4 linked regions of the Homo sapiens genome follow. The protein of the gene in region 3 interacts with the protein of the main gene of each other region in a pairwise test. Each region holds a gene or a part of one and is shown on either strand. Other genes may lie near its edges. The genes, in order: C11orf54, EFHC1, KLF11 and RGR.

Evidence for each region.
Region 1: the proteins of KLF11 (region 3) and C11orf54 interact in binary tests that used the Homo sapiens proteins (3 or more experiments, as listed by UniProt).
Region 2: the proteins of KLF11 (region 3) and EFHC1 interact in binary tests that used the Homo sapiens proteins (3 or more experiments, as listed by UniProt).
Region 4: the proteins of KLF11 (region 3) and RGR interact in binary tests that used the Homo sapiens proteins (3 or more experiments, as listed by UniProt).

What each region holds. Positions count from the first base shown.
Region 1 is NC_000011.10:93,751,655-93,758,683, forward strand, and holds part of C11orf54 (ester hydrolase C11orf54), read left to right. Parts: intron 1-2,027; coding exon 2,028-2,101; exon of another isoform or gene 2,102-2,105; intron 2,106-2,281; coding exon 2,282-2,383; intron 2,384-3,555; coding exon 3,556-3,732; intron 3,733-5,661; coding exon 5,662-5,811; intron 5,812-7,029. UniProt on the Homo sapiens protein: Exhibits ester hydrolase activity on the substrate p-nitrophenyl acetate, in vitro. Regulates DNA damage and repair by regulating HIF1A degradation via chaperone-mediated autophagy (CMA).
Region 2 is NC_000006.12:52,415,881-52,423,342, reverse strand, and holds the start of EFHC1 (EF-hand domain-containing protein 1), read right to left. Parts: upstream 3,002-7,462; 5' UTR 2,933-3,001; coding exon 2,870-2,932; exon of another isoform or gene 2,362-2,869; intron 2,336-2,361; exon of another isoform or gene 2,275-2,335; intron 1-2,274. UniProt on the Homo sapiens protein: Microtubule inner protein (MIP) part of the dynein-decorated doublet microtubules (DMTs) in cilia axoneme, which is required for motile cilia beating.
Region 3 is NC_000002.12:10,046,532-10,053,560, reverse strand, and holds part of KLF11 (Krueppel-like factor 11), read right to left. Parts: intron 5,912-7,029; coding exon 4,966-5,911; intron 1,335-4,965; coding exon 1,054-1,334; 3' UTR 1-1,053. UniProt on the Homo sapiens protein: Transcription factor. Activates the epsilon- and gamma-globin gene promoters and, to a much lower degree, the beta-globin gene and represses promoters containing SP1-like binding inhibiting cell growth.
Region 4 is NC_000010.11:84,255,051-84,260,487, reverse strand, and holds the end of RGR (RPE-retinal G protein-coupled receptor), read right to left. Parts: intron 2,596-5,437; coding exon 2,482-2,595; intron 1,981-2,481; coding exon 1,849-1,980; 3' UTR 528-1,848; downstream 1-527. UniProt on the Homo sapiens protein: Receptor for all-trans- and 11-cis-retinal. Binds preferentially to the former and may catalyze the isomerization of the chromophore by a retinochrome-like mechanism.

The sequences.
Region 1 (7,029 bases), on a different chromosome or scaffold from region 3:
CGGCCTTCCAAAGTGCTGAGATTACAGGCGTGAGCCACCACGCCCAGCCTTGATTTTTTTAAAAATATGAGTGTAATGTATTTCCCCTGCTAATTAAGTAATTAACTAAAATTAAATAAAGGTCAGGAGACAGAAGAGTACAAGAAAGAAGGAAAAATGGTTAATCTTTTTTTTTTTTTTTTTTTTTTTGTGTGTGTGTGTGTGAGATGGAATCTCGCTCTGTCGCCCAGACTGGAGTGTGGAGTACAGTGGCACAATCTTGGCTCACTGCAATCTCTGCCTCCCGGGTTCAGGCGATTCTCATACCTCACCCTCCCAAGTAGCTAGGATTACAGGTGTGCACCACGACACCTGGCTAATTTTTGTATTTTTAGTAGAGACGGGGTTTCATCATGTTGGCCAGGCTGATCTCGAACTCCCAGTCTCAAGTGATGTGCCCGCCTCGGCCTCCCAAAGTGCTGGGATTACAGGTGTGAGCCATCATGCCCAGCCAAAATGGTTAGTCTTAATTTTGTCATGCAGAGTTATGCTTGGAAGAAGTGTTTTCTGGTCAGTAATTTGTGAGTCTTTAAATTGCAATACTAGAAGCCAGATATGCATCTAATATGTGTATGTATGATCTTTCATAAACATAGGAGTTTAAGACCAAACTGGCCAACATGGTGAAACCCAATCTCTACTAAAAGTACAAAAATTAGCTGGATGCAGTGGTGTGTTAGACATTTTCTACATGAACTGGTCTTGCTAAGATCACCAGTGACCTTAAAATGTTTACTAGTACTATTTAACCTCTCCACGTATTTCATACTGCTTGGCCATTGCTGCCTGACATTCTCCCCTAGGTTCTATCTTCTCTATCCTTGTTTCACCTGTTCTTCCTTTGTGCCTTTCCTTCCTCTTTTCTTCCATATTTTCCTGGTTCCTTTTTCTTTCTAATAGTCTCTTAAATATTGATCTTTTCCAGAATTCTTTCCTTAGCCTCTTCTTATTTCTAGTAATCTATCTGGGTATTTTTTAAATCCACTCTTATGGTTTTAATTACTACCTGAATATAACTTTGAAATTTGTACATCTCACCTAGATCTCTCTGGGTTTTTTTTTTTTTTTTTTTTGAGACGGAGTCTCGCTCTGTCACCCAGGCTGGAGTGCAGTGGCGCGATCTCGGCTCACTGCCAGCTCTGCCTCCCAGGTTCACACCATTCTCCTGCCTCAGCCTCCTGAGTAGTACACCCAGCCTCCTGAGTAGTACGCCCGGCTAATTTTTTGTATTTTTGGTAAAGATGGGGTTTCACCGTGTTAGCCAGGATGGTCGCGATCTCCTGACCTCGTGATGTTTTGTTTTTTGAGACAGAGTCTTGCTCTGTTGCCCAGGCTGGAATACAGTAGCACAATCTTGGCTCACTGCAACCTCTGCCCCCGCCGGGTTCAAGCAATCCTCCTGCCCCAGCCTCCTTGGTAGCTGGGATTATAGGCTCCCGCCACCATGCCCAGCTAATTTTTCTATTTTTAGTAGAGATTCACCATGTTGGCCAGGCTGGTCTCGAACTCCTGACTTCAGGTGATCCACCCGCCTCAGCCTCCCAAAGTGCTGGGATTGCAGGCGTGAGCCACCATCTGAGAATTTACATTGTACCAGAGCAAAATATTTTAAATTAAAAAACAAGAAACAATTTTAGCCAAAAAAAGGAAAACCACCCCAAAATAGATTTTTTTTAAAGAAATAAGGCGTCAAAGACATTCTAGAAACCTTACCCAATCCAAACTTTGGCCCCAGTTCTAACCCTTGCCCTTGCCTTGTATTGCCTTTATGCCACCAACTTTATAAGCCATGCTTGGTTATGATGATTATTAGAGACACAGGTACTTAAAATAGGACAGGGGTTCTAGCCACTATGTCTTCCAATCCCTGTTATTTGTAAAACTTTATGATAATGGAGAAGTTATATACTGTTGGCATTTTATTATTAAATTAGATGTTTGCCTGTTTTTAAGGTGGCTTGTGTTTTTGTTTTTTGGTTTTTTCTTAGGCATCTGTGGGAAAACTAGAATTGCAGAAGTTGGAGGTGTGCCTTACTTATTGCCTCTTGTAAACCAAAAAAAAGTAAGTACTTTTACTCTGCATATTCACATGAAGATTGTAGAAGTTGGGTTGATTACTGTGTTTATTATTAGAAGACCTGTTGATCAGTTGGCAAGGAAGTGCTAATGGATCAGTAATAAAAGGTAAACCAGGGACTTTGTACAAGTTGTGACTTAAATAATATTTTTTCCTCTTCTATAGGTTTATGATCTGAATAAAATTGCAAAAGAAATCAAGCTGCCTGGAGCCTTTATTCTTGGAGCAGGAGCAGGTCCATTTCAGACTCTCGGGTTCAATTCTGAGGTCAGCATATATAAGAAAATTATTTTACTTTATTGGTTTGACATTTGGTTTGTCTTTTTGCTTTTAGTGCCAAAAATCCTACTTTCTGAGTGAATTGTAAATCTCTCTGCAGGTTTGATACTACTTGATGTAGATTTCTGCTATAGCACACACTCCAACTGGACTAACTGTAATGGAGTACTAACTTGTAGTTTTAGATTTTCTTAGGTCATAGCTTCAGCCTTAGATAAATGCAGGGTTCTATGGTATTCTGTTGAAGGTTCTGGATTATAAAATATTTATATTCTTACAGGATTCCGAGCTTATCTATAAATCTTTGCTTTGGGTATGCAGGCAGCTTTGGATTAGAAGATGAATGGAATATTAGTGATCTAGTCAACTCCTTCTTCCACACCAAATAGTAGGAAACTATCACAATAGTATGATGGTTATTTATGAAAGTTAATAGTTATTACTAGTATATATTATTACCATATGAAAATATTACTGTTTCTTTGAATCTCATGAATACAAGACTTCAGTCTGCTCATTCTCTCATAACCTCTTCAGATATGAATAGTAGTCATACAAGTTCTTTGCAGAAACATTAGTACAATTTGCCTAGTGTTCAAGTTAGGAAAAAAAGTTAAAAATTTAAAATAAGATATTTAACGCAAGTTATAGATACACTGTAAGAAATCCAATAAATATCTTTTTTTTTTTTTTTTTTTTTTTTGAGATGGAGTCTCGCTCTGTCGCCATGCTGGAGTGCAGTGGCGCGATCTTGGCTCACTGCAACCTCCACCTCCCAGGTTCAAGCAATTCTCTTGCCTCAGCCTCTTGAGTAGCTGGGACTACAGGTGTGTGCCACCACGCCCAGCTAATTTTTGTATTTTTAGTAGAGACAGGTTTTCACCATGTTGGCCAGGATGGTCTTGATCTCTTCTCTTGACCTCGTGATCCGCCCCCCTTGGCCTCCCAAAGTGCTGGGATTACAGGCATGAGCCACAGCGCCCGGCCTATAAATGTTTTCCAAGTTTTTTATGTCTAAAATTAAATATTATGTATTTTATGTTCTCTTATTAGGACTTGAACTAAAATGTCTTAAAAGGATTAAATGTTTTGTAACATTATTCAAGATATTCTCTTTGCAGAGATACAAAGATTGACTAATTGCCTCACTTTCTTTTCAGTTTATGCCAGTTATTCAGACAGAAAGTGAACACAAGCCTCCTGTAAATGGAAGTTACTTTGCCCATGTGAACCCTGCAGATGGAGGGTGCCTACTGGAGAAATACAGTGAGAAATGTCATGATTTTCAGTGTGCATTACTGGCTAATCTTTTTGCCAGTGAAGGCCAACCTGGCAAGGTGATTGTGTCCATAAAAATACAATATTCCCTAAATGTTCTCAGAAAGCTAAAAATGTGAACTTTTACTGCCATAAATATGGTTTTGCTAAGAAAATTAGTTTCCCACTTTGGGAGGCCAAGCTGGGTGGATAACTTGAGGTCAACTTGAGGTCAGGAGTTCAAGACCAGCCTGGTCAACATGGTGAAACCCCATCTGTACCAAAAAATACAAAAATTAGCAGGGTGTGGTGGTGTGTGCCTGTAATCCCAGCTACTCGGGGGGGCTGAGGTGAGAGAATCGCTCAGACTCGGAAGGCAGAGGTTGCAGTGAGCCAAGATCATGCTACTACCCTCCAGTCTGGGCCACTGAGTGAGACTCTGTCTCAAAAAAAAAAAAAAAAAGAAAATTAGAGCTTCCTAAGTCAAAGCTCTTTAAATAACCCAGTAATGAAAGGTTCAGAGAGTATGACAGGCAGAGCAAAAGTCATCTTTAAGGTTAAGAATAATATGGCTGGAGGCCAGACGCGGTGGCTCACGCCTGTATTCCCAAGCATTTTGGGAGGCCAAGGTGGGTAGATCACCTGAGGTCAAGCATTTGAGACCAGTCTGGCCAACATAGCGAAACCTCGTCTCTACTAAAAATACAAAAATTAGACAGGGAAGGTGGCACATGCCTGTAGTCCCAGCTACTTGGGAGGCTGAGGCAGGAGAATTGCTTGAACCTGGGAGACAGAGGTTGCAGTGAGCCAAGATTGCACCATTGCACTCCAGCCTGGGCAACAAAGCAAGACTCTGTCTCCAAAAAAAAAAAAAAAAAAAAAAAGAATAGTATGGCTGGCACAATGGCTTATGCCTATAATTCCAGTCCTTTGAGAGGCCAAAGCTGGAGGATCACTTAAGGCTGGCAGTTTCAGACCAGCCTGGGCAACATGGCAAGACCCTGTCAAAAAAAAAAAAAAAAAATTTTTTTTTTTAATTAGCCAGGTGTGGTGGTACATGCCTATAGTCCTAGCTACTCAGGAGGCTGATGCAGGAGGATCCCTTGTGCCCAGGTGTTTGAGGCCGCAACGAGCTATGATCACACCACTGCACTCCTACCTAGGTGACAGCAAGACCTGTCTTAAAAAAAAAAAAAAAAGACTACTTAGTAAGCAAGACCTTTTTCTGAGAACTAAAAGGTAATAGAATATTAATTTGGGGAGTGAGTTTGTCATCTACATGAACCATACAGCTAAAATAAATAATGCCTACTTACAGGTAGTAAATAGGTTATTTGCTTCTTTCTGATGAATCACACATTGCTCTAGATAGAAATGGTGGTAGCAAAAACTTACAGCAAGAACAAAGTAAGGAAAACTAATGCCTTACTTGATATTTACTTCCTATTAGTACACAAAAATATGATTTCAGTGTTAGCTTTTGTGAAGACTCTCCAGTTTTGGAAGTAGAGATAGCCTCTTCAGCTACTTTGAGATAAGAGATTGAGAAGTGAAAATACTTAACGTCCAAGTTGTGGAGATAATACAGAATTTTAAGGGAAGTGAGAAAATGTAATCATTTTCTCCTCATCCCCACTTACCAAAGGTTAATTCCTTTAACCAAAGAATTACCAAAGGTAATTCTCAATCTTTGACTGCCTCGACACGTATGTTAAGAGTCTCTAGACTCTCTGCACTGAGAAACTTGTCTTTCTCAGTTTCTCAGTTCAAGAAAGCATGCTTAAGACTTACTAGTAAATTACATGTAACTGATAAGTATGTGTGTGTGTGTGTGCATACATATATATATGACTGATCAAAATTCACGGGATTGCAACATCTCAACTCAGATCTGGGGGCTCTAAGCAAAGAACAGAATATTTGCTTGATAGAATTAAATTATATAATGTTTTATTTCAGTAGTTATTTTGCAGCATAGTCAATGGTATGCATCTTTATGTCCTCTATAGGTAATTGAGGTGAAAGCCAAAAGAAGAACTGGACCACTTAACTTTGTGACTTGTATGAGAGAGACCCTGGAAAAACATTATGGAAATAAGCCTATAGGAATGGGAGGTACTTTCATAATTCAGAAGGGAAAAGTGAAGTCTCACATTATGGTAAGAGCCCATGTGTGCATACATGCATGAAGGAGTTTGTGTGTGTGCACTTACTTAAGATCTTAGGATTTTTTTTTTTTTTTAAACGGATCCTTGCTCTGTTGCCCATGCTGGAGTGTAGTGGCACAATCTTGGCTCACTGCAACCTCCATCTCCCGGATTCAAGGGGTTCTCCTGCCTCAGCCTACTGAGTAGCTGGGATTATAGGCATGCAGCATCACAACCGGCTCATTTTGTAGTTTTAGTAGAGACAAGGTTTTGCCACATTGGCCAGACTGGTGTCGAACTCCTGACCTCAGCTGATCCACCTGTCTCGGCCTCCCAAAGTGCTGAGATTACAGACGTGAGACGCTGCACCGGGCCAGATCTTAGGATTGTAAAGTATGTGTTGGGAATTCTACATTTGAAGACACTTTAAACAAATCCTTTTTATTATGATTGTATTACTTTAAAATTTAAATGATAATTTTATAAATCAGATTGTAAGATAATATCTTTGTCCATGTTAGTATATTAGAACTTTATTTTGGATATGTTTGTTTTTAAGATCAAGATAAATTCAAGGCCTGCAGAGTGACTCATGCCTGTAATCCCAGCACTTTGGGAGGCCCAGGTGGGAGGACCGCTGGAGGCCAGGAATTCAAAACCAGCCTGGTCAACATAGTGATGATGGCAGCGGCAGGCTCTCTGGAGCGGCTGCAGCAGGGAGGCACGGCTGAGGCTACACACTCTATGGAGCGGGTGGGAGCTGAAGACAGGTGGGAGTCCTGCCCCTTCCGAGTTGGCGCTGGAGCTCCGTTGGTGCCGCTGCAATCGCCCAAGCCATGGCTGTAGTCCCTGGCATCCCTGTGCTCTCCCAGTGGGAACAGGCGAGAGCCCCAACTGCCCAGGCGCAGCTGCAGCAGCTCAAACCCGCGGCTGCAGACCTGGGTCTCCCGCTCCACGGAGCAGGCAGGAGCCCTGCCTTCTCCACACAGCTGCAGCTGCCCAAACCGTGGCTGCGGACCCAGGCATTCCTGCATTCTTGGGGGTCTGGGAAGGCCCCCACTGCTCTTACAGGCTTGGAAATGCCTGCTCCCACTGCCTGGCTTCTCCCTGCTGTCGGCGCCTGCTCCGATCCAGGAGCAAAGTCAGGCAGAGCCCGGTCGCTGTCGCAGCCCAGCCAGGTGTGCACACGCTCAGGGCACTGCTGACACACCAGCCCCCTGCCGTCCCGGC
Region 2 (7,462 bases), on a different chromosome or scaffold from region 3:
TCTCATCTATACTCTTAAGTTTTTCACTAGTCTTCTCATGTTTTTCATCTGATATCTGGGGCCGTAAAAACTGTAGAACCTAGAAGATACGGTTCTGTGAATTTTATTTTTACATGGAATGAATTTATTTTTACCTGTCCCTCTTGTCACAATGACAGTGATACATTCTTACAACTCTTTGGAAAGCAACTGGATGGTATATATTTAAAGTCTTGAACTCAATAATTCTACCCCGACCATTTATTTACGAATATGATTCAGAATTATGAGAAAGAACTATATGCCTGAAGCTGCCCATTACAATGGTAAATGTTGAAGACAATCTAAAAGACAGTCATATGAAGACATGAGTAAATGATCGAAAACTCACTCAATGGATTATGGTGCTGTCATTAAAATATTGATTTTAGAGATCACGTGGCAACCTGGTGAAAATATTTATGATTTAATAAGCCTGAAAAAGCAACATATAAAATTATATGTGTACTGCAATTATAAGCATGGAAATATGTGCATGAAGAGACTGGTTTGGTCCTCTGTATTATACATTTCTAAATTATGTTGATTTTTTACAATGAACACATTTTTATTTAAAAGATTAAATAAAAAAGAGTAGAAAGGCAAATTAGAGGTTATGTTAATGGTTTCCTTTTTCTGTTGTGAGGATACTTTCACAATTACTTATCTATAATATTCAAATATATACATAGATACAATTTAAGATTAATCATAAAAAATATTTTTATGAAAAAAACTTTCTACATCCTAATTGCTTTAGAGCCCAGCCTACCATCTTTCAAGATCTGTACTAACATGAAAGGTACAACAGAATAAACTTCTTTTGCTAAAAGGGTTATAAACTGTATATAACCCATAAAAACAAATGTATGACATTTGTTTTTAAAGGTCATGTATTCAGAGTCACAAGTCAGTTGACAGGGACTGCTCCAGGTATATAGTAAACATGACATAGAACAAAATGCGCTGAGTTGACATCCTCATTGGGTAATTTATGGAACTTCAAGCTCTTCTTCCACCACCAAAGACAGAAGCAACATCAGTGACTTCAGTTTATTTCTTTGTTTTAGACAAATGTCTCTACCATCATTCAGCCATAACTCACAGACACCCCAGGCAAGGCAACCTCGGCCCTTTCCACCCCTCTTGTCCATTATGGTTCACCTTCTGTGTGTCTTTTTTTAAAATCGTTTTCCCACTCCCCTTTAAAAATTTTTTAACTTCTTATCTGCATGTCTTTAGAATTACATTAATACATATTCAGTCCTTCACTGCTGAAGATATACTGACGATGCTTTTCAAATTTCAAATAGGGCAAATTGGTTGACACTTGGCCAGTGTATTTAAAATCTGAAATATGTCCAATGCACAGTTCTTCTTACTTGTAATACAGCAATATGTTTTTAGAGCTTTGCACTTCCATCCACACCTCTGTAATTCCCTGTATCAACTCAGCCCTGTCTATACTCACCAACACCAAAAGCTTAAGCTCATCCTGTATAGGGCAGGCAAGTGCCTACAACATTTTCTAAATTACATAAAACTGAAAAGTCCACTGAAACTAAAAATCTATGATGTTGTGTCTTAATGCAGGGATAATTACAGAGATTCAGAATACAAATTCTCTCACCAAACTTTCGATTTCATTCTAAATTGATTCTTCCAAAGAAAATAAATTGACAAAATATTTTAACTTTGTGAAGCTGGAGAGGAAGGCAAGAGTTTAAAGTATTAAACTATATAAACATAAACTACTGTTAGCTCATCTATGATGATCAGTCTACTGAATCTCATTATTGATTTTTCAGCACATACATTTCAGTAGCCCTGTCAGAATTAAAACAAACCAAATAATTTTAAGAGCTAAACTGTGGCAAGAGTTTAAAAAAAAAAAAGAATCCAAGCTGCTGCTACTTTTTAAAAAATTTTGTCTAGAAAATGCAAATAAAAACACAAGGTTGGGGAAGGAGCAAAACAAAATCTAAACAGGAATCTTTTTACAAAAACGTTAGAATAAAAAGAACAGGGCCGGGGAAGAATAAACAGCAACTAATCAATTCTTGAGGGAACTGGAAAGGAATATCTCTTACAAAGCAGGGAAAGATGCTTTGGGAGGAAGGTGAGCAAGTTTTGGGGAAAACCCGCAACGGAGAAAGAAAGGAATGGGGAGAGGATGGGACTAAATTGTGGAAAATGTAGAAGATGGAGAAAAAAGAATGGGGTTGGATGCAAGCATAAAGAAGAAAGGAAAAAGACCTGGCGGAAAGAAGAGGAGCGGAATCGATATACATACAAAACAGGAAATGGAGCTGGGAGTGGGAGATACTACCGGGTACAGGATTCAGAAGAGGAAGAGGTGGGGCGGGAATGACGGACCTGTGGGAATGAGGTTGAAGGTGCATAGTGGCGGGGGGTTTTAAGGGCGGCGATGGACGGAGACAGGTTATGATGTGAGAGAACGAGCTAGGGAGAGGGCCCAGAGATAGGTTGGGAGTAGGGTGGGGGAAACAGTGATCTAAAGGGACAAGAGGCAGGGGCTTGGAGGAGCAGGGCCGTAAGAAAGAACGCGGCTAACGGGATGAGAATGAAGGCGCCAACACACTGCCAAGATGGAGTGGGAAAAAACTAGAGAGGGATGAGGCGGAGGGCAAAGGATCGGAGAGAGGGGATGAGGATGGCTAGGGAAGAACGGCAGAAGTTCGGCCCAGAATAAAGAACAGGGTCAGGACAGAAGACGTGTTTGGAGAGAAGACAGACTTGAGTGGAGGGGAATGGAGGTGCACTGAGCGGGGAAACCTCCTGGGCTGCTGGAAGGTGGGGACAGGTGGGAGTCTGGCAGATAACTGCTCACCGTAGAGTCCTTAAAGGACGTGCCCGGAAGAAAGGGCAAGCCATGCACGGGATTGGACACCATTGCAGCCGGTACCACCGCCGCCACCTAGGTCCTGCTTCGTCCTCTCCGGTTGCCCAGGCGACAAGCAGTGTTCGCGGGCACCTCCAGGATCCATGGTAACGCTAAACATCCGGAACTCCCACGAGCGGAAGGCGGGGCCAGGAGGCGCAGGCATCACAGGAGGTTTGCGCGTGCGCCATCCGCAGGACTCCGCGTTCTCGCGGTAAGTGGGCCGCGGCCTTGGAGCGCGGCTAGTGGGCGTGGTTGTGTCGGCCCCTCCTCTTCCGCTTCGCCCCGCCCCGCTCCCGGAGGATGAGACGTGGGAGCTGTTGGGTGGCGCGGGGAAAGGCGGGTGTAGCGAGGCGGTAGTTCTCGCTGTGAGATCCGGGGTCCGAGCAGGCCCTTAGATGAGTTGCAGAGAGGGACGTTCCTTCTCTCCTTCCACCTAGTCCTGGCGGACCTCACTGCGCCCCGCCAACGCTGTGAGCTCAGGCACTCTTTTCTCCCCCCTCTGCCCCATTTCACACAGAAGTGTAAATGGTCGGTCCAGTTGGCAGTGCTACTAAACTAGACCCATGCTTCTTGTAGGCAGGGGCCGAGGATTACCCATGATTGTGTTTCTGTTGCTCAGGGATGGTCAATGAACTAATGCAATCATCTCATCCTTAATTCTCCCACTGCCACATTGTATTTTTCCCCTTTTAACTCTTTTTTAAAATCAATCTTTCTCTTTCTTTCTTTCCTTTCTTTCTTTCCTTTCTTTTCTTTTTCCTTCCTTCCTTCCCTCCTTCCCTCCGTCCCTCCTTCCCTCCTTGCTTCCTTCCTTCCTTCCCTACTTCCCTCCTTCCGTAGAGATAGTGTCCCACTATGTTGCCCAAGCTGGTCTCGAATTCCTGGGGTCAAGCGATCCGCCCACCTCGCCTCCCAAAGTGCTGGGATTACAGGCATGAGCCACCGCGCCCAGCTCTCTTTATTCTACCATCAATCCCTTCGGTTAAACACCTTTGTTTTTGTAGGGAAAGCCTTGAATATGTGCTGCAGGGCAGGGTGCACTCTGATAGGTACTTGATTTTTGTTGACTGAAGAGCTGCAGGTTGAAGGGTGGTCACCTCAATCCCTCGTTTGTACCTGCAGCTGCAATGAAAAAGATCAGAACCACTAGGAGGAACACAGCTCCTTCAAAGAGAAAGACTAAGTCTTGGGAAAGAAGCAGATAAGTGAGGTGAAATATTGTCAGCATCATAGGTATAGCCTTTGATGCTTTTTACAAAACTTGCTTAAATTATTTTTTCTTAAAAGAAACATAATCCTATTCCTGAAACATTTTTTTTGGGGGGGGGGGGAGAAAGCTATCCATCATTGCTGAGGAGCTTAAAAATAAAAAGTAATCAAAACCCACGTGCCGAGAGATTTGGATTCATTAGGTCTGACATGGAGGCCAGGAATCTGATTTTTGTAACAGGCGTTTGTGACAAGCCAGTTTAGGAACATGATAGAGTAATAAGCCAGACACAGAAGGCATATCTCAGTGTCACAGGTAGTTTACTGCCAATACAGACAGCAGCTTTACTTTTATTGCTGCTTGTCAGAGCAAATCCCCCTGTTGGGTTTCACTAATTTGTGTGACGCTCAGGAGGCCCAGGACATGAATGCATTAAGTGGCACCTGAGGCAGTTATTGATGCCTGCTTACCATACCCTGCCCAGAGAGTTTCCTTTCTAACTCTTCTCCCCTTACTACATCTGTTTCCTGTTCTTGTCCTTTTTTAAACCTCTTTTTCTTTTTCTGTAAGTACATTACCTTAATGCAGCAGTTTAATACATTTTTTAAAAACTTCAATGAAGTTTTTTTGCCTTTGGTGCTTTTTACAAAACTTGCTTATTTTTTAAAAAAATAAATGTAATCATATTCCTCAAACATTGGTTAGCATTGTGGAAGTTACTGAAAACTTTTAAAGTACCTGTCCGTTGTATTATACCTTAGACACCAACTGAGGATGGATGCCAGTCACTGGAGGAATATGTCAAGATGGCAAGTTTGCTGGGTGCGGTGGCTCACGCCTGTAATCCCAGCACTTTGGGAGGCCGAGGCGGGTGGATCGCCTGAGGTCAGAGTTTGAGACCAGCCTGGACAACATAGTGAAACCCCACCTCTACTAAAAATACAAAATTAGCTGGGCATGGGGGCGCATGCCTGTAATCCCAGCTACTTGGGAGGCTGAGGCACGAGAATCGCTTGAACCCGGGAGGTAGAGGTTGCAGTGAGCCGAGATCGCGCCATTGCACTCCAGCCTGGGCAACAAGAGCAAAACTCCGTCTCAAAAAAAGGAAAAAAAAAAAAAAAGATGGCAAGTTTAACCTTTCAAAGATAAGGCACCTCTCCCACTTCTCTCCACCTCATTGACGCTGATTACCCAGAATCACTGGTTACTGTAATTTTTGCTGACTCTTCATGATAACCTTAAACTGTTAGAAGTTCCATGATCCCTCCCTACCCACTCTCTTATTAAAAGTAAATTTCATGGCATTAGGACACACTTTGAAGAGCTCTTCTTGACTAAGTGCATGGTTGCACTTGGATCTATATTCCTGGGTTGGGTAGGGAAGGAGCGTGTGGAGCTGGAAAGGCTGAGTCATGCCTAAGCCTATTGTCCATTATCGCATCTGTTTCTATTTGAGGAGTGCCCTCTGCTCATGCCTTTCTTTCCAGAAAAGCACGCCAGTTAAATGGCTAAGGGGTGTGTTTTAACTACTTTCGGACCCCAGAAATGCATGAAGACAACTTCTGTTGGTCTATGGCCTCCTAAAAATGCTATCATCTCTGAGGAGGGGAAGTCAGACGTACTGCATTAGTGTTAAAAGGCACAGGGACAAGTCTGTAAAGAAGTGGGGCGGGAGGAAAGGCAGGGCTTCAGAAAGGTACCTGGATCCTCAGAAGGTCTGCTGTGATTAAGAGTTTGTATCCCAGTCGGGTGCAGTGGCTCATGCCCGTAACCCCAGCACTTTGGGAGGCCAAGGTGGGCAAATCACTTGAGGCCAAGATTTTGAGACCAGCCTGGCGAAACCCCATCTCTACTAAAAATACAAAAATTAGCTGGACGTGGTGGCACATGCCTGTAGTCCCAGCTACTCAGGAGGCTGAGGCAGGAGAATCGCTTGAACCGGGGAGGCAGAGGTTGCAGTGAACAGAGATCATGCCACTGCACTCCAGTCTACATGACCACTTAGCATGCATTGCACTTCAGTTTGTACCCACCATTTCCCACTTAGTGGAATATATAAAAGAGGGCAGGAAACTGACCATTCCTGGCAGCTAAAGTAGGAAATGCCATGATTGAAAGGCCATTGCATAAAGCCTGACTCAGAAGACCACAGAAATATTGCATGATTTTAGCAGGTGTTCCAAAACTTGGGGAATGGAAAAAAATTGAAAGGTCAGACTGCCAGGAGCCAAGCCTGAAAGAGGGCCTTGTGGGCTGGGTAATGTCTTCCAGGCAATCCTGATGGGACAGGCCATAAGCAGTCAGCTAAAATAAACCTCTCCTCTTTCAGCATTTTGCCCAGAGCTGACTTTACCCAGAATTTGTTTTCAAAACTGTGACATTCTCATTCTATAATACCTAAATTCACAGGACAAAAAATACCAAAGGGCTGTGTGTGCATGTGTCCTGGATTACTTCTGCAGTGATTTGGTGTTCTGCTTCCCTCTGCTGGGTAAAAATGGTACAGCAAAATTTCTGGAAAAGAAAACAACCAATTACATACCTGCAGGTTTTGCAGGTACTTGGGGGTGTGGTGAGCACGTGAATATGGCCAGGGGGTGTCCCTCAGTCAGAGTGCTCTCTAGCATTCCTTTCCATCACTCCATGGCCTCTGAAATATTTTATCTAAAAAGAGGGCCCAGTCATCCACTTCGATCTTTGCAAAGTATGGGAAAAGGAGAAACATCCAGTGATTAGATTTAGGATCCACAGGAGATCTTCATTTGACACAAAAATTACATCATTTGGGTCTAGACTATTTTAGTCTTGATGTGGGCTCCTGCCTGGGGTTTGGAAAAACCTGTATTTCTGCTGCTTTTTCCTCCCTTAAGTCAAACCTATTCAATAGCTTTAGCTGATTCCGTTGGAATTCTCTTTCCTTGTCAAAGCTGATGGAACATACTTCACAGGATATAAGCGTCATAAGAAGATGGTCTTCATTTTTTCATTGCCATTTTCCTAACTCTCATCACAGTGCCTAGCACTACATAGATGTCCATTAAATAGTTGGAAAATTACTGACCTACTACAGTTAATGAATGAATGACTCAGCGGTCACGTGGGAAAGTATTTTTCAAACTGCTGCAGATTTCCTTTAGCAGTTCTTCAAATCAACTTAATAGGTTGTGACCACAACGAGAATTATTTTTAAAAAAGAATAGAATAGAAACTATCCAGATGCATTCCATTTTGTTTGTAAGAATAATTCAGTGAAAGTTTTTTCAAGATATATACATACATATACATTCATAGTGAGAGTATATCATGATCACAGTCAAAATGCTTGAAAA
Region 3 (7,029 bases):
AATCTTGGCACTGCCTGCCTTCACATGCATCTCGCCCCAGCTAAGCTGTGCTCTGGTGGAGTTTCATCCAACCAATACAGACATTTCCTTTTTTTCTGAGAAGTTACTCTACCCACAATATAGTACGGATAAGGCCACAGCAAAAGGAGTCAGAACTGACAATTGACAAAGCAGCTGGATTTGAGTGTTTCTTTTTTGGTGTTTTAGGTACAAACAAGAAACTGAATGGCTTGCTTTCAGCAGAGCCATGGCCAAGACTATTACAGACTAGATCCTGCAGCAAGTACTGGTCCCTGGGATCTGCCCAGTGGCTCATGTTACTCTCTGGGGTACATCCTTCATGACACACCATGGACACAGCTCACTAGTTCCAGTCAACCAAAATTTTAGTTCTTTGGTGACAGGAATGATTGCCTAGAATTTCCTTGAAAACGTTATGAAGAAGCTGACGGCAAAATTTATTTTTCCCTTTTAAGAGGTCCTTACTCAACCAGGTCCGATTCCAAAAAGATCTAAAAGGCCAGATAACTTGTGGTTTTTGTAGTGGAATAACATGTCCAGTTTACTAAAAGAAGGGCCATTAGGAAAAACTTTGTTATTAAACACTGAAAAGAAGGCTGCAAAATGATCTAGCTAGAAATTGGTGATTTGAGCACCAACAATATAAATATTTTTCTAAAAACCAGTATAAAAATTAGTACCCTGTCTTATTTCTACAAAACATCAATAGAAAAGGTTGTAAAAATCCAGATTTTGTAAACTTTATTGCCGAAATATTTGTTTGAATGCTGGTGATTCAGATTATCAAATTTTCTACCATTTCTTTAAAAAAAAAACCAAAACAAAAAAACTTCTGAAACTACAAAAGATACTGAACAGGGTCCCAAGTGGAAAAGAAAAGTTAACATACTTTCATCAAAACCAGCTCCCCGATCTTCCCCTAGGCCGCCAAGACCGTTTTTTTTGGGTGAGGCAGTGGGAGAGGAATCCATCAGTTCCATTCCTGGAAAGAGGCTTTTTAAAAATCCCATGAGTGATGTCCTAATGGACCTTTCAGGCAGAGGCTGGCATGCTCACCAGTGGGCTCCCCGGGCTCTCTGCAGAGGCGATTCTGTTCAGCTTGCCAACCTCTGCCTGCCAGCCTGGGATCTTCTTGGTCGTCATGTGGCGCCGGGCATGCTTCGTCAGGTGGTCACTGCGCATGAAACGTCGGTCACACACCGGGCACACAAACTTCTTCTCCCCTGTGTGAGTTCTGCGGTGGCGTGACAGCTCATCCGAACGAGCAAACTTTTTATCACAGCCATCCCAGCTGCAGTTGAAAGGCTTCTCCCCTGTGAGGTGAGAAAATACATATTAAAGAGAAAGGAAACGCTAAGCACCTTATTCAAGGGGTTAATTCATGTCATTTTAAAATCGTGTTCATCAAACTCAGAAGAAAGTGGTATCTTATTACTCTGGAATTGGATGATTTGGGTCAAGAAATCCTCCAAAAGGCATTTATTCCTCCCACACTTAAGATGCAGCTATGTTAGCACCCAAAGATTTCAAGCTAATCTTTCAAAATATATTTAAAAATAAATCAGGCGAAGTACAAGTACAGCGGCTCAAACCTATAATCGCAGCACTTTGGGAGGCTGGAGACGATCAGTTGAGCACAGGAGTTCCAGACTAGCCTGGGCAACAAAGTAAAACCCAATCTTTACCAAAAAACAAAAATAAATTAATTAAAAATGTAGCATCCAGCCAGGCGCAGTGGCTCACGCCTGTAATCCAAGCACTTTGGGAGGCCGAGGCGGGCGGATCACAAAGTCAGAAGACCGAGACCATCCTGGCTAACACGGTGAAACCCCATCTCTACTAAAAATACAAAAAACTAGCCGGGTGTGGTGGCGGGCACCTGTAGTCCCAGCTACTTGGGAGGCTAAGGCAGGAGAATGGTGTGAACCCGGGAGGCAGAGCTTGCAGTGAGCCGAGATTGCACCACTGCACTCCAGCCTGGGCGACACAGGAGACTCCGTCTCAAAAAATTAAAAATAAAAAATGTAGCATCCAGCTGGGCACGGTGGCTCACGCCTGTAATCCCAGCATTTTGGGAGGCCGAGGCGGGCAGACCACCTGAGGTCAGAAGTTCGAGACCAGCCTGACCAACATGGCGAAACTGTCTCTACTAAAAATACAAAAATTAGCTGGGTGTGGTGGTGGGTGCCTGTAATCTCAACTATTCCGGAGACTGAGGCAGGACAATCGCTTGAACCTGGGAGGCGGAGGGTGCAATGAGCGGAGATCGCGCCATTGCATTCCAGCCTGGGTGAGAGTGAGACTGTCCAAAAAAGAAAAAAAAAGTAGCACCGGCCGGGCATGGTGGCTCACACCTGTAATCCCAGCACTTTGGGAGGCTGAGACAGACGGATCATGAGGTCAGGAGATGGAGACCATCCTGACTAACATGGTGAAACCCCGTATCTACTAAAAATACCAAAAAAATTAGCCAGGCATGGTAGCTGGCACCTGTAATCCCAGCTACTCGGGAGGCTGAGGCAGGAGAGGAGAATGGCGTGAACCCGGGAGGCAGAGCTTGCAGTGAGCCGAGATCGCGCCACTGCACTCCAGCCTGGGCGACAGAGCAAGATTCCATCTCAAAAAAAAAAAAAAAAAAAAAAAAAAAGGTAGCATCTATTCACTCTACCTTACTCCAATTTAAATATTTTTCAGGTTGGCAGAAATATATATAAAAAGCAATCTTATCCAAGGTAAACTTGCCCAGTTTCTACTTCTCATGAAAATTCCAAGTTTACAAAATGGCACAAGGGGATTCTTCAGAACTCTTACAGTTATTTATTTTTATTTTTTGAGACGGAGTCTCACTCTGTCACCAGGCTGGAGTGCAGTGGCGTAATCTCGGCTCACTGCAACCTCCGCCTCCCAGGCTCAAGCGATTCTCCTGCCTCAGCCTCCCAAGTAGCTGGGACTACAGGAGCGTGCCACCAAGCCCAACTATTTTTGTATTTTTAGTAGAGACGGGGTTTCACCATGTTGGCCAGGATGGTCTCAATTTCTTGACCTCGTGATCTGCCTGCCTTGGCCTCGGAAAGTGCTGGGAATACAGGTATGAGCCACAGTGCCTGGCCAATTTTTTTTTTTTTTTTTTTTGAGATAAGAGTCTCGCTCTGTCGCCCAGGTTGGAGTGTAATGGCGCAATCTCCATTCACTGCAACCTCCATCTCCCAGGTTCAAGTGATTCTCCTGCCTCAGCCTCCTGAGCAGCTAGGATTATAGGCATGCGCCAGAAGGCCCAGCTAATTTTTGTATTTTTAGTAGAAACGGGGTTTCACCATGTTGGCCAGGCTGGTCTCAAACTCCTGACCTTGTGATCTGCCCACCTTGGCCTCCCAAAGTGCTGGGATGACAGGCGTGAGCCCCTGTACAAGGCCTGTTATTGAATTGGAAGTACTTTAGGAAACATGGAAGCAACTTGTTTCAATCACTGCAGGTCATTCTGTCAGTACTTCTACCAAGGTAAACCAAATAAACGGTAAAACTTCATTCAGTCACCTCCAACATTTGGAAGCTGTGCTCTGGTGTAATGCAAAGTTCCCCTGGAGAGTCCCGGTGAAATGCAGAGCTCACCAAGTCAACAAGCCCATTAAAAGAGGCAGGCAGGTCAATTCCCCTCAGAAACACCCGTTCCCTGACACAGCCCCACGTCCATCTGCCATGCAAACAACCAACCCTCATTTACTGACTAGTGTCAGGCCCTTTTATCAAGCACCAGGAATATATCCAGGTGAGATATACAACTAACTAAAAAACAAAGGGAGACTATAGTAAGACCTACAATAAACCACTAGGGTCAAAGAAGGAAGATAAAGAAACAATCTAATAACTAATCCTAGGAAGGCCCTCAGAGGGTTTCAGTAAGTAGAGATGGGCAGAGGGCCAAGAGGGAAGGGTGGAAATATGGAACCAGACATAGAATGTTGGGGAGACTGTTTCTGAATGGGCAGAGGTGAGTACCTCATGGGCCAAGTTTGGCTTTATCCTCAAAGCAAGCAGCCACTCAGTAGAATGGAGTAGTAGAGTTCCTCTTATAATGTCTGAACACCAGACTGCACTTTATTCTACACGTGGAGGCTACCACGATCAGAGCAACAGAACACAAACTCACAGAACACCTGAGAAATGGTGCCCTCACCTACTGAAGCGATTGTCTATCCAGCAACACTCAGACCACTGCTGCGCAGCAGGGCAGCCACAGGTCCCATGGAGCTATTTAAACTTCAAATACTAAAAAATGTAAAATTCAGTTCCTCAGGCACACTAGCCACACACTTCAAGTGTGAGCAGCCAGTGGCTACCCTAATGGACAGACAACAAACATTTCCACCATTGCAAAAAATTATATTGGACAGAGCTGGTTAGACAACAGAGAGATCATTAGGTCAGCATAGTTTCTTGTGTGACTTACTTTAAATTAAAAACTACTCTCAGAGGTAAGAAAACTATACTCTTTTAAAAAATATTTTAGAATTTGAACTTTTCTATAGTTTGGCCAGACCTTTTCTCACATAAACATAAGTCACACTGGTAAGATACATTTACTAAATGTGAATGAATGCATGTTTTCTTTAAAAAAAAAAAAAAAAAAAAAAGGATGAAACGTCTACTGCAATGTGAACAGAAGGGGGCACTGTAAGTCACTCTAAAAGCTACCAAAAGACACAATCACAGAACTATACTACATTTTATCTTCCAGGGCGAGCGCTCTGTAGGCAAAATCCTGATGGCTGTGCAAACAATCCCACCCTTACAAGGTTGTGCGGGCTTTTCAGAACCAAAGAAAAAGCCACACTTCCACCTTCGCCAGGGGTTCTCATGATCCCCTCCCAGCCAAAGGCGGCTCAAGGTGTGCTTCCTAACCACAGGGTCTGGTGTGCCCAATGCCCCACCTGCCCCAGCGCTTACCTGTGTGAGTGCGAAGATGGGCCTTAAGGTGGGAACTTTTGAAGTAGGTCTTCCGGCAACCTGGGAAGCTGCATACATAGTTCCTCCTTCGGGAAAAGTCTACCTGAGGGACACAGTTTTGGCTAGAGGTGATGAACACTGGAGCAGGGGCAAGGGGCAACAACTTGGTATTCCCGGCAGCCATGACATTGGCTGCACAGGGGGCAGGCGGAGGGAGGGCTCCCTGGGGCAGGACCAACATCACAGCTCCCTGAGGCACAGCAGGTCCCACGAACACAGGTTGAGGCGCTGGAGCAGCCTGAGCTAGGATGGGTCTCACAGTCCCCACAGACAACTGGGGAGGGGGCTTCAAAAAAGCTGGTAACATGCTACTTTGTCCAGTCACAGGGATCATCTGGCAAAGGACAGGGGGAGCAGGGACAGAGACAGAAATCAGAGGGGTGGTTTTCCTGGGCAGGTCATTTTCATAATTCTTTGGTGAGCAAGTCTGAACTGCACCAGGCCACCCTGCCTGCTGGCCTTTGTCAGTGAGCAGCAGGCCACCAGACTTGTGCAAGCAGGGCTGACAGGACACCAAGTTAGTGCTGAGTAAACTGTCCGTGAGGTGTGTGTCCTGCAAAGTTTCAAAGTGTCCCAGAAGCTGCTCTTCTCCTTCTCTGCTGTCAGAAAGCCGGCAATCTGGAGTCTGGATGGTGGGAAAGCAGGCAGCAGGGCTCTCCCCAGTGTGTCGGATCACGCTAGTCCCCTTGGCCCTGCAGGGAGAGCTGGGCACTGGCTCCAAACCCAGCAAGCCCCTCTCCGCGCCCCCGCTCAGAGCTCTGGCCACTACGGCAGAGGACTGGAGAACATCCGTGGCTGTACATGCTTTGGAATCTGTTACTTGGGGAGAAACAGGTGTCCTTGTCGATGGCTCCACGAGATCAGGGCTCTGAGGAGGAGTTATGCACTAAAAAAAAAAGTACCATGTTAAAAGGTTGCTTTAAATTTTAAAAGGGATTTAATTCATCACAATGCTCCCAATACCTTTACACAGAATCATCTAGACACTCAGTTAACCCTGTTTTCAACATCCCAGTGGGTTTCAAGGCTGCATGAGGCACTCTGCTTTCTCAGCTTATTCCCAACGTGTTTACCTCTCCCAAACCTACACAAGAGCCCAGTGCAGGGAACTCTGAGAGGAGCTCCTGGCCGCCAGGCCCACCACTTCTGCAACCCTCCCGACAACCCACAGGCCCTTCCTATCCCTCTCCAAATCTGCTTTCTACACTCTTCTTTCAGAGCAAGCTTCCAGCCCAGGACAATCACAATTTCCACTTCTGTTAGCAACCTACAGTTCTCAGCTTCTCCAAGCTGAGATGCAATTTTTCCAAGTACTTTCACAGATGTAGCAAATTAAAAAAACAAAAAGCAAGAGTGACTTACTGCACCCAACTCACAGAACTCACATTAAGGAGTCGGCTGCCACGGGAGGGCAGAGGTGCCACCCAACGAAGGCAATCTGATGTCAAAGTACATGCTTTCTCCAGCTGCTACCGATATATTCTGACACTAGGCTGGAGAACCTAAGCTCCACCCCGAGATTCCCCTGGGGAAGTAAATTTCACTTTCTCACATTAATCTGTAGGTTTCATCCCACGGACATTAACCACGTAGCTAGCAAGGTATGATCCATCCATAGAAAGAGCACATTTTTCAGAAATGAAAGAAAAGTTTCTTTTTTTGTTCTTTTATTTTTTTTTGAGATGGGGTCTCGCGCTCTGTTGCCCAGGCTGGAGTGCAGTGGCACGATCTCGGCTCACTGCAACCTCCGCCTCCCGGGTTCAAGCGATTCTCCTACCTCAGACTCCTGAATAGCTGGGACTACAGGCGCCCGCCACCACACCCGGATAAATTTTGTACTTTTAGTAGAGATGAGGTTTCACCATGTTGGTCTGGCTGGTCTCGAACTCCTGACCTTGTGATCTGCCTGCCTGGCCCTCCCAAAGTGCTGGGATTACAGGCTTGAGCCACCATGCCTGGCCAAAGGAAGAGTTTCTACTCCTTCAGACCCACACAGAGAGGATA
Region 4 (5,437 bases), on a different chromosome or scaffold from region 3:
TAAATGGTGCTGGGAAAATTAAATTGCCATATGCAGAAGAATGAAACTGGACCCATATCTCTTACCATATATAAAAATCAACTCAAGGATAGACACGGTGGCTCATGCCTGTAATCCCAGCACTTTGGGGGCCAAGGTGGGTGGATCACCTGAGGTCAGGAATTTGAGGACAGCCTGTTCAACATGGTGAAACCCTGTCTCTACTAAACCCCAAAAAATTAGCCAGACATAGTAGCGCATGCCTGTAATCCCAGCTACTTAGGAGGCTGAGGCATGAGAACTGCTTGAACCTGGGAGGCAAAGGTTGCAGTGAGCTATGATGGTGCTACTGTACTTCAGCCTGGGTGACAGAGCAGGACTCCGTCTTAAAAAAAAAAAAATCAACTCAAGATGGATTAAAGACTTAAGTGTAAGAATGGACACTATAAAAATCTTGGAAGAAAATCTAGGAAAAACTCTTCTGGGCATTGGTCTAGGCAAAGAATTCATGACAGAAACCTCAAAAGCACAAGCAACAAAACCAAAAATAGACAAATGGGACTTAATTAAACTAAAAAAGTTTCTGCACAGCAAAATAAACCATCAACAGAATGAACAACGTGCAGAACCGGAGAAAATATTTGCAAACCATGTATCCAGAATATATCCAGAATATATAAGACTATTATATATTATCCAGAATATATTATCCAGACTATTATCCAGAATATATAAGAAACTCAAATAACTCAACAAAAAAAATCCAAATAATGCCATTAAAAAGTGGGCAAAAGACATGAATAAACATTTTTTCAAAAAGAATACATACACGTGGCTAAGAAGCATATGAAAAAATGCTTAACATCAAAAGTCATCAGAGAAATGGAAATTAAAACCACAATGAGACCTTATCTCACACAAGTGAGAATGGCTATTATTAAAAAGTCAAAAAATTACAGATATTGGTAAGGATGCAGAGAAAAGGGAACACCTATACACTGTTGGTGGGACTGTAAATTAGTACAACCCCTATGGAAAACAGTATGGTGATTTCTCCATACTGTCTTAAAAATAGAGCTACCATTTGATCCAGCAGTCCTACTACTGGTATCTACCCAAAGGAAAAGAAATCAGTATATCAAAAAGAAACCTGCACTTGTATGCTTATCACAGCTGTTTACAGTAGCAAAGATATGGAATCTATCCATCAACAGATGATTGGATAAAGAAAACGTTACATATATATAACGTTTATATATGTATATGGAATGGAATACTACACTGCCATAAAAAAGAACGAGATCATGTCTTTTGCAGCAACATGGATGAAACTGGAGGTCATTATTTTAAGTGAAATAACTCAAAAACAGAAAGTCAAATACCACATGTTCTCACTTGTAAGTGGGAGCTAAATAATGTGTACACGTGGACATGGAGTGTGGAATAATAGACATTGGAGACTCAGAAGGGTGACAAGGTGGGAGGGGGTGAGGGATGAGAAATAACTTAATGGGTACAACGTATATTATTAGGGTGATGGTTACACTAAAAGCCCAGACTTCACCACTAGGCAATCTATCCATGTAACAAAACTGCACTGTACCCCCTTACATTTATTATTATTTTTAAAAAGGAATGACTTTCCTGAGGCCTCTCAGCCTTGAGTGTAGGGGGCTGTGACCGACACTCAGGTCCATCTGGCTCTTTCTGTGCAGCCTGGTGTCTTTCTGAATCCTGTGTCCAGCCTAGGACCAGGATCCACGGGGCCACTGGGGAAGGTGGGTGAGTGTCTGGGCTTGGCCACTGAGGCTGCTGGGCAGGACTCCTGGAACAGCCTCCTGGCCTGGGGCTCACTCCAGGGTGGCAGGCTCACTTGGTTCGGTCCTTCTCCCTCTTCTGCGGTGAGAGGCACTGCCAGATTCCCCTGCAGACCATCTCATTGCCCAGGGCATAGTTGATGGCATTGATCGTGGGCACCATTTTGGCAATGAGGGCGGGCACCTGTTGTGGCAGAAAAGTCCAGAAAAGAAGCTTCAAAGCCACTGATCCTCTCTCTGGTCTCACCTGGTGACCCCGGTCACCCTCCACCTACAACTGCCAATCATTTAGTTCTGCAGCCTTGGAGGCTTCCCTGACTAGTTGGTGGAGATGCATGGCTCACGGAGTCCATGGAGCCATACTCTTGTCCAGACCCACCTGCTCCCAGCCTGGGGACTAATCTCAACCCCTGGTCACAGAGTCTTTATCTACACCATCTGGCTGGCTGTCCCTGTCATCTCACATGAGGTTTGGGCAATGTCAAGCAGCAGCCTGGTATGACTCAGAGACGAGGTGGGGGATTAGGGGGGCAAACTAATGCTCTATGCCTTGTGAGTATCCAAAGGAAGAAACACAGAAAGGAAGAGACTGACACAGAGGTCATAAATCCAGAAAGTGAGATGAGATGAGACAGAGAACAAAGATGGAGAGGGGTCTAGTTTTAGGTACTAGAAGTATCTGTACCATCTGCAGTTTGGGGGAGATGGAAGTCACGTCTGCGATGACTGCGTATAGATACAGGATGGCATAGGGGCCCCAGCCGAGCAGCAGCGTCCTTGCTGGCAGAGTGGTGTTTACCTGGGGAGAAATTGTCACAGGAGATGTCAGCTTGCTCCAGGTGGCCCACAGCCCTATGTGGCCAAGAAAACCAGGTCAGCACTCAGCAGGGCGGGGCAGCATGGACCAGGCTTCAGGAGGGGGCTGAGTCTGCAGGGGAACTTGGGACCAGATGGGCCTCTCTGTTGTTTAAGACTGTGTGACCTTAAGCCTTTTATTTAAACTTGCCTGACCTCAGCTGCTGTGTCTGTAAAATGGCCTGACAATACCCAACGTGGCTGGAGGCCGAGACTGGGTGGATAATGAGCGCTTCCTCCTGGGTCTGTACTCTTTGTTTGTCAAATACAGAAGGGGTCTCACTATGTTTCCTAGGCTGGTCTCGAACTCCTGGGTTCAAGGGATTCTCCTGCCTCGGCCTCCCAACGTGCTGGGATTACAAGCATGAGCCACTGTGCCTGGCCTGCGTCTGTGCTCTTTAAGAGGAATCCTGGGCTCTGTGACTGCGTGCTCAAGGGGCCCCAGGCTGAGCTGCCCTCAGGCCTCAGTCCTAGAACCAACTCGTCATCCACAGCTACAGCCACCCGGCGAGACCACCCTGTCTGGGCTCCCAATGTGAAATACAATCAGCGGGGGAGGGGCTTGTCCAGAGAGCGGGAGATGCTGGGGTGCCGCCTGGGGCCATGAGGGGGCGCAAGACTCGCGCTTTAATTTCAGCGGGAGCTGCCAAGTTCCAGCCCCGCACAAACACGCGGACGTGCAATTCTGACGCTCAAGTTCTTGCCTGTTTTCTCCCTGACCTGACTTTCTTTAACAAAGAGGGTGATTAAGCTGGAAGAGGGCATATTTTCTTCCATCTTGGATTATTAAAATATGTTGACCAAGAGACTTTTTTTTTCCTCTTAACTGTCCCTTATTTGGGGAAAAAAAAACCCACGAACAACGGAGCTCAGCACCTCGGGGCCCTCCCGGGAGCCGAGGCCCTAAGACGTGGAATCCCCTGGGGAGGCTACGCGGTCTCGGGAAGCCGCTCAGCTTGGGATGAGGTCCCTGGACCCCTGCGTGTGACCTTGGCGATGCCCACCAGAGACAATGGTTTAAAGTCAACGCAGAAAAATGAGGAGATCATGGTGGCAGCCTTGTCTCCCGGCTGCCTGAGCCTCCAGTAAATGTGAACTTTGCACCTCCAGACAGGGCTTGGGACCGGCATCGCGGAGGACAGCCTAGAAGCGGCGCCTATGCCAGCAGCCAGCTGGGAGCCAGGGGACTGGATTCTGGTCCCAGGAAAGCCCTTTCTCTCCTTCTGACCTCGGGGGAGCATCGGGGCTCCAGCTAAAATAGATTTGCACAGTCCTTTTCCAATTTACAATAAATAAATAAAGTGGCAGATGAAGTGACTTAAAAAAAAGAGTTTCTTTCATGCACTGTGATTGACCACATGGGTGGTGGAGTCCCAGACCTAGGTTTGAATCCAGGTGTGTGGTTTTTGGTGAGTTGCTTAGTTAACCCCCATCTCAGCCTCAATTTTTTAGTCCGCGACACAGGGATAAGAAAACCTCCTTCTGGCCGGCACGATAGCTCAAACCTGTAATCCCAGCACTTTGGGAGGCTGAAGTGGGTGGATCACCTGAGGTCAGGAGTTCAAGACCAGCCTGGCCAACAGATACAAAAGATACAAAAATTAGCCAGGCGTGGTGGCAGGTGCCTATAATCCCAGCTACTAGGGACGCTGAGGCAGGAGAATCGCTTGAACCCGAGAGGCGGAGGTTGCAGTGAGCCGAGATTGCCACTGCACTCCAGCCTGGGCAACAGAGTAAGACCTTGTCTCAAAAAAAAAAAAAAAAAAAAAAAAAAAAAGAAAGGAAAAAAAAAAGAAACAAAGAAAAAAAAAAAAGGCTGGACACGGCAGCTCACGCCTATATCCCAACAATTTAGGAGGCGGAGGCGGGCGGATCACCTGAGATCAGGAGTTCGAAACCAGCCTGGCCAACATGGAGAAACCCCGTCTCTACCAAAAATACAAAATTAGGTGGGTGTGGTGGCACATGCCTATAATCCCAGGTACTCGGGAAGCTGAGGCAGGAGAATCGCTTGAACCCCAGAGGCGGAGGTTGCGGTGAGCCGACATCACACCATTGCGCTCCAGCCTGGGCAACAAGAGTGAAACTCGGCCTAAAAAAAAAAAAAAAAAAAAAAAAGAAAGAAAACCTCTTTCCTCATAGAGTGGTTGCAAAGAAATAATATTAAGATCTGAATTTGTTCTAATCTTTGTTGCTTGTTACGACTCCTTTGCTAGAGGTCATCCAGGTGACCAAGTTAAAATAAAACCGTGGCAAGGGAATAGTAATTCAGAAACTAAAAAATGGCCAGGAGGGCTTATTTTGAAGTATTGTATTTCTTGGACAAATGTGCTTATAGGTTGATTTTTATCTTTTGGGCACCACCCTGTGACTGTGATTAAATTAAACATCTCAAAGCGGTTTAAAAGTAGCATTTAAAAAGCCTGTAACTTTGTGCCAAACCTCACATCCTTGGCAAGAGTTAAGTGGAACAGCACGGATGTGTCCAGTAGGGAGCCCTGGTCCCCAGAGTTACGGGGTCTGGGTGAATCTGAGCAGTCCTGATCCTTGCTCCCCAGGCCTTGGCGATCTGAGCAAAGGGAGGGTGGTTTCCAGTTCTAACATCCTATGCTGTGCACAAGCTGGATTTTCTCTTGATCACTGAAAACGCAGAAAACCCCTGGTTGCTGTCTGTCACATTGTTCATATTCCCTGGTGTCCCTGAGAGGAAACGAGAAATTACTGCTGCTCTTGAGGCAGGAGAATAGCAGAGGGAATTGGAGGTTAAAGGGCGGAATGAGTAGAAG